Linked DNA regions of Homo sapiens. The protein of the gene in region 2 interacts with the protein of the main gene of each other region in a biochemical or structural test. Each region holds a gene or a part of one and is shown on either strand. Other genes may lie near its edges. The genes, in order: ITGB1 and NGF.

Region 1 (3,823 bases), on a different chromosome or scaffold from region 2:
TTGAAGGGAAAAAAAAGATTAACAACCAACTAAACAATTTAAATCTACTAAAAAATATTTCAAAAAGTTGCTCACTTATTTTAATGTTTCTCAAACTATAAACTAAATTTGCTTATAAATAACCAATGTTTTCTACAGAAAATGCTTTATACAACATACCTCATCTCCAATGGAAATATTGGAACATTTTCTTCCATTTTCCCCTGTTCCATTCACCCCGTTCTTGCAGTAAGATTTGTAACTTATTGTTACGCCTTCTGACAATTTGCCGTTTTCCAAAATGACTTCTGAGGAAAGGGACTAAAAGAATGCCTAATTATACACAGGAAAAGTCAAACAAAATGCTACTTGAATGCATAAAACCAATGGATAAACTGCTCAGAAAAAAATATATTTCAATAAAGTATCTACAAGCCAAATCCAATTGAGTAACTAGAAAACACAGAGGCCAGAGAAACAGGTTTTAATTAATAAGGATCAAATCTTTAAAATAAAATACACAATTGAAAAGAGTATTCCTGTTTTAATCACTGAGTTAAAATACTCAGGATCACACAGTGCAGAGGGCTGTTACTAATTAGGAGGAGTCTTAAAAATGTGGAATAGGCCGGGTGTGGTAGCTCACACCTGTAATCCCAGCACTTTGGGAGGCCAAGGTAGGTGGACTGCCTGAGCTCAGGAGTTGGAGACCAGCCTGGCCAACACAGTGAAACCCCATCTCCGCTAAAATACAAAAAAAAAAAAAAATTTATCCAAGCATGGCAGTGTGCACCTGTAATCCCAGCTACTCGGGAGGCTGAGACAGAAGAATCGCCTGAACCCGGGAGGCAGGGGTTGCAGTGAGCCAAGATCACACCACTGCACTCCAGCCTGAGCAACAGAGTGCGACTCCATCTAAAAAACAAAAACAAAAACAAAAACAGAAACCCCCCAAAAAAAAACGAAATAAATGCTGTCTTCCCCATCGGCAAAATGGCATTTCTGTAGTCCTACCTCTCCAGCTAACTATGGACTAGGGTAAACAATCAACTATGCAGTCTAGGAACAAATTTGCTTAAGGAACCATTGTAGCCCAGCCAAAAAAAAAAAAAAACAAAATCCCCCAAGAAGGAAGGATTCAAGCCAGGGCTTGTTTAACATATGAGACTATTCAGGACAAATGGAGAAGGGTACAATGGCAAGCTATCTCTTGTTCACACCCCTGAAAGAACAAGAGTTAGGAAAATTATCTAAGACAGGGGAGAATGGGAAAAGCTGTGGAACAAGTAAAATATTAAAAACCTTTATAAAAACCCCTCCAAGTCAGGCCTTTCCAAACCATTATGGTACCCCATAAAAAAGGGAAGCCTCATATGGTAGGCTGGCCTTTCCAAAGCGTTATGGTACCCCCATGACATGAAGTAAAAATGTCTAAAATTCAAGCTGCCAAAGGGTTAGGGGGATGGGGGCTGAAAGTGGTGCACGAGACACACAAGGGTTACCTACCAAATTACAACCGCCTTCAGATTATTTAAATGATTATTAATGAAGGCTAACTCGGTGTGATTAAAGTACACTGAATTATGCTCAAAAAGGATAAGCCAATTCCTCTTTAATTTCAATTCAACTTCCTCCCATCTGTGAGGGGAAAACAACACTATAAATCTTTTTGAAATAGGCAAATCACATGTATATTTACATTTTTATATATTTTATGGTATACGTATATATGAGTGTGTACCTCCTGAAATAGAAACCCATATCCTCTGAATATATGGGAAGAGAAGAATTGGCAAAAAAAAAAACTTTTCTAGCACAATTCATCAGAATAGATGACTCTATAAAGGATATTTTGGGGAGGAAAAAGATTGGAGAAATCCTGTAAGTTTAAATGTAAGTTATGTTTTACAATTGCTTTCTAACAAGGAGATCTATTCCTTAATGATAAACAAACAGTTATTTGGAAATACTCCCCACATGCCTTTATCACATTTTCACTTTGTTTAGGCCATGAATCTTGCTTTTGTAAGACAATATGTATAAAGTTTTTCCTCTAGATACATACAGAATTTAAGTTTTTCTGTAGTACTTTGGGCTCGCTAAAGTGTGTATGAAGGAAGTTTTACTTTCTTTGTACAAAGTATTCTCAACAGGGTATTGTCCAAAACTGATCTTATTTAAGATGTACTCACATTGTATGCATCAATGATCAACTGAATTACATTGCTAGAATTTGCAGATAATGTTCCTACTGCTGACTTAGGGATCAAGTTTTTCAGCTCCTGCAATTAAAAGATAAAACACGTAAAATACAACTGCTATTCATTCAACCAATTAGGATCCACTGAGCAACTTTTATCTTTAAATGCCAGTTCCCATGTTTCCTCCTAACTAACTTTAGGAGTCAAACCTAGAAACCAGTTTTATAATATGTGATTAAAAATTAATATAAACCACTTTTGTAAAATTCGGTTTGCCTATCTGGTGGCATTTTCCCACATTTCAATTCAGACATGATTTGCCTCTAACAATCAAAAATGTTTAGAATCTTGTTCTTTTTATCTCACACATTTACCTTGTAAACAGGCTGAAATTCTTCAGTAACTGCAAAAATTGTCTGAATATTATTTTCACTCAGTTTCTGGACAAGGTGAGCAATAGAAGGATAATCCTAAGAAATCAAGTAATATAATTTAGTATTTAAATACACCCTTATAATCTCTTCTAATTTTTCAATCTAGTTATACATGCAAGATTACACATAACTCGATTACAAGACTGCTTTAGATAACTAGATTACATATATAATCCATATATAGCTAGATTACATCTAGTTGCATACATATAACTAGATTACAAGACTGCTTTCAAATAACAGTATCAAATATAAACTGCTGAAGTGAGTCGTGTGTATACATGAATTGCTAATCCTCTTCTCTTTACTTTCATGTATGAATAAAAAATTCCATATTCAAAAGGTTTTAAATAGTAAGTTTATCTATGTATATTAAATATAAGGACAATGAAATTAAAGAATAGTCAGTAATTAAATATTCTATTATCTACAACTTAAGAAAAAGACCAAGATTTACCATTTGGATTTCTTCTAGAACTTGAATGCTTTGCCAATATTTATTTTCAATAAAGGCAGAGTGACTGCTTTTAAAAATCGTATAAAACAAAGAGTATGAGACTAGATAAATTATTTATTTAGAAAGAGTACTGACTGTGCTACCAAATGCTGTGGGCGGGGAGTTGAGGCAAAGAGTGAAAGTGGCATCTGGGCATCCCTTTCCCACCCCAGTGAGGCCCTTGTCTGAGCAGAAGGAAGCAAATACAAAGCTGCATCTTCACAAACAGCAACACTAGCTTTCCTGCACTTTCAATCAGGACCCCTACTTACCAAAACAGCAAAACCTCAAACCCTGAGAAACCCCAAGCCAGTCACCCACAAGCTCTTAGTATTAAACATTAAAATCCAACATAAACACATTCACTATGTAAGGAACCAGGCACTTACATAATAATGGCTCATTGTGTACATATTATTTTCCAGGTGACATTGTCCATCATTTGGTAAAACAATGCCACCAAGTTTCCCATCTCCAGCAAAGTGAAACCCGGCATCTGTGGAAAACACCAGCAGCCGTGTAACATTCCTCCAGCCAATCAGTGACTTGAAAAGAAAAGGATTTCAATTTTAAAACACTATTCACAGTAATTCAACAAAAATCCTTTAATTTTCATATAGGCCACCATTGTATTTTTAACCTAATTCTGTATTTTCTGTGTCTTCTCTTTATACAATGGTAATTATCTTGCTGAGAAACACACAAAGCCCACT
Region 2 (3,823 bases):
AGCTACCATCTCTCTTGATCCTCTCTCCTCATCTCCCTAAACACGCTTCTTCACAGTTTCCTTTTTCTGTTACTGGAACCATCATTCATTCATCCACTAGCTCCATACCTCTGCTTATCCCTCTGCTTTTTCCTCCCTGACCTCCATCCAGCCCTTTTGGTTCTGGTTTGGTAGCATTATCTTGAAACTGTATTTTATCTTCCATTCTCATCTCTGGGCCCCTAGTTCAGGTCATGGGAACAGTCTCCCACCTGATATCCTGGACCCTCATCTCTCTTCTTCCAATTCCTCCTATCCCTGGCCACCCCATTTAGCTTCTTAAAGCCTGCTCTGATCATATCACCCTGCTCAAAGGAGCTGGTGCCAAGTCCCTTGTCTGTAAGCCAGTAGGGACTGCTCTGCCTGGCAATGGGATCCTGCCTCCTTCTACTCCCCTCACATAGTTTGCATTCCGAGTGCACAAAACTCCTGGGGGCAGTTCCTGCTTGAGCTTCCCCACCACTGCCCTTTTTCAGACTCTTCCCTTCCAGGTATGCTCCCCTACCCTCTCAGGGCCTTTTCTGCTCTCCACCTCTGCTGGTGGAATCCTTCCTGTTGTCCTTCAACAACTTCAATGCTGCTTCCCCTGGGGAGCTTTTTCTAATTCTGAGACAAACTACCTTCTCTCATCTTTTTTTTTTTTTTTTTTTTTTTTTTTGAGATGGAGTCTCGCTCTGTCACCCAGGCTGAAGTGCAGTGGCTTGATCTCGGCTCACTGCAGCCTTTGCCTCCTGGGTTCAAACAAGTCTCCTGCCTCAGCCTCCTGAGTAGCTGGGACTACAGGCACACGCCGCCACGCCTGGCTAATTTTTCTATTTTTTGCAGAGGCGGGGTTTCACCATGTTGGCCAGGATGGTCTTGATCTCTGATCTCGTGATCCGCCCCCTCGGCCTCCCAAAGTGTTGGGATTATAGGCGTAAGCCACCACGCCCTGCCCCTTCTCTATCTCTTAAAGCCTTCCCTTTATATTCTCTTAGGGCTGTTGTATTCTTTTATCCTCCCTTCTAGAGGACAAACTCCCTGTAGGCAGCAAAGTGTCCTACTCATCTTTGTTGCCCCCAGGTGACCTAGAACTCCTAGGTAACTCCTCCTCTAAGAAACTGTGAGTATGTAGACAAGTCTCCTGCCTCCAGTGTTCCTTAATTCTCCATCTGCATGATGATGTTAAAGGTATCTTCCAACCATTATATTCTTTCATTTCAGGTAATTATGAAGTTTTCTACCCTGCCTTGCATCTGCTGGTTTGACTGAACTGACTTCACAAAGTTCCTACACTCTAACACTACTTTTCCACTCACAGTCAAGATACCAAATGGTATCACATTTAATCACAATGGAGATTTGTATCACAGGCAGAATGTTTCATTAAGACTTGAAAATGTCTCAAATATATCTCTCATTTAGATTTTAGGTTTAAAGTTTTTTTAAAAAAATATTTAATTTACTCATGAGAGTGTGTTCCTATAAACTTTTAAGTTTAAAAAAAAACTCTCTTAAAAGTGATCAGTAGATAAAAGAAAAATTGAGTGCATTTTCTATTCTAGTGATATAATGCACCATTTAGAAAAGAACATTCTTTTTATTTTTGGTTGATGTGAACCAGGGGAGAAGTTTTATTTATTTATTTTTTAAAAACACCCTTTGAAGCCTTTCTCCTGAACAGATGACAGCTTTCTGTCTGGCTTTATTAAGCAGAGCTCTGCAAGCTGAATGATCAGCTGAGGAGGATGCAGTTAGGGGCTCACATGAACGAACATGTTCTATTTAATATGAGAATGCTCTTTAATTGTCCTACTCCTACCTAGAATGGAAGATCCATGACTAAGAGTGGGGCAGCCCATTGGGATGCCTTTACAACCAGCCACTGATGGGCTGCCCTGCCCTCTTGCCCTCTTCTGAACCAGCGATACATTCTGTGGATTTCCAATGGTTCACACACTCCAATAATAGGATAAATTTCTCGCACGAGGTGAATGATCTTCAAAGATTCTGGCCTCACCTGAATAGGTGATGGAGCTGCTGAACAGAGCTAAGCAACTGGCCCAAATATTTGTGGTTAGGAGGGCTGATGGCACTGGGAGGCTTGGCAACCATGCCTGGGGAGATGTGTTGTAGAAGGGAGTGAGAGAATTCCTGTCTTAGAGACAGCCATGCCAAGAGCCACGAGTGATTCTTGGGCTAGAGATGGGATACGTGAACCAGGGTCACTAACAGTTGGTGAGAGAGGAAATTCTTGTGGCCAAGGAAATCCAGCCTCCTCCTCCTCCATCTCATTCGCCACATTCTGAGAGTGGGCCAAGGGTCATTTCTTGTTTTACGCTTGGCCTTCACTCTAAATGTTAACTGGCTGCTGTCTTCAGTTGTAAAGGCTCGAATACTCTTGGGGGTTGGAGCTGGTGTGGAGTGTGGGAGGAATTCTGTGGCTCCTCATTTCTCCAGCAAGGTACTTCAGAGGTGTCCTGGGGTGGGCTGAACAGAGAGAGGCATCGACAGAGTAAAATCCAGAGCTTCTGTTAGGACAGGATTTATTGGGAGGAGGCATGGCCTAGAAGGTACATCAGAGATTCAAGTCCAGAGGCTCTCAAACTTCAGGGCATCAGAATCACCTGGAGAGTTTGTTACACTATAGACTGCTGGGCCCCATCTCCAGAATGCTCGATTCTGTAGGTCTGGTAGGAGGACACTAAGAATCTACATTTCTAGTAAGTTTCCAGATGATGCTGATGCTGTTGGTCTGGGGACCATATTTTGAGAGCCACGAGTCTAGCCTAATTCTTTAACTTTGTAGAAGACAAAAATGAGCCTTGGAGAGGCTAAGTGACTTGGGCTTTTGCAGCCAGTGAGTGGCAGGGCCAGTCCGTGAACACCTGACTTGAGCTCAGCTTTGCTATCTTTTAGAGGAGAGAGGCCTGAAGCCGTATGCACACTGTAACTGATAGGTGGTGGGGTGAGTATACTCATCCCCCAACATCGAAATGAAAATTCCATTCAACAGATTGTAAGTTTTACCTTCCTGATGCCATAAATCCAGATATTAGGGAATATTTAGATATTGAATTGTTTTCATATCTGCTTTGTTAGGTTTCTGGGCACCGTGTAGACTTGATCTAAAAGCACTTGAAATGCCCATGATAGAAATATGCAACCAGAAAACACTAGCAGGTACCAGCGCCTGTGGGGTCACTGGGCTCTCGGAGGGCAGCTGTGCTGGATACATTAATGGGAACCAAATCTACTGATCTGAATTCTAAAAGACATACCTTGACATGAATGAGCTGAGATAATAGTAATTATTATTTATTGGGTATAATTTTCTAATTAACCATTACACAAACCTGGGAGGTTGGCCATATTATTCCTATTTTAACAATGAGAAACCAGAGATGTAGTAAGATTAAGTAATTGCATCACAGGTACACAGCAAACAGAAGTGGAACTCGGAGCCACACCTCCTGTGTGCAGATTTGGAACTCTTCCCTACCCCTCTACTCCACTGGTGAAGGGCACAAAGAGTGGCTGTGAACCTTCCATTTTGCAAGTTCCCTGCTCAGTCGGACCAGAGAGTTGTGTGGAGGGTCTGACTGACGCTGTCTATTCGAGGTCCTGTGTTCGGCAACTTTAGACCCTTGATGCAGCTCAGACTCCTGATATGTCCCTGGGGCCCATGGGGCCAACCTGCATGCACAAAAGATTTCCTTTCCTGAGTGGGCTAGGGGAGCTGCATTTGCTGCACCACTGAAAGCTTCTCTAGGCCCCTGCTGCTCAGCAGTTGGTTCTGACTTGC

The links.
Region 1: the proteins of NGF (region 2) and ITGB1 form a complex in vitro, tested with the Homo sapiens proteins (one study listed by BioGRID).

What each region holds. Positions count from the first base shown.
Region 1 is NC_000010.11:32,920,086-32,923,908, forward strand, and holds part of ITGB1 (integrin beta-1 isoform 1A precursor), read right to left. Parts: intron 3,656-3,823; coding exon 3,500-3,655; intron 2,651-3,499; coding exon 2,555-2,650; intron 2,262-2,554; coding exon 2,172-2,261; intron 301-2,171; coding exon 160-300; intron 1-159.
Region 2 is NC_000001.11:115,289,717-115,293,539, forward strand, and holds part of NGF (beta-nerve growth factor precursor), read right to left. Parts: intron 1-3,823. UniProt on the Homo sapiens protein: Nerve growth factor is important for the development and maintenance of the sympathetic and sensory nervous systems.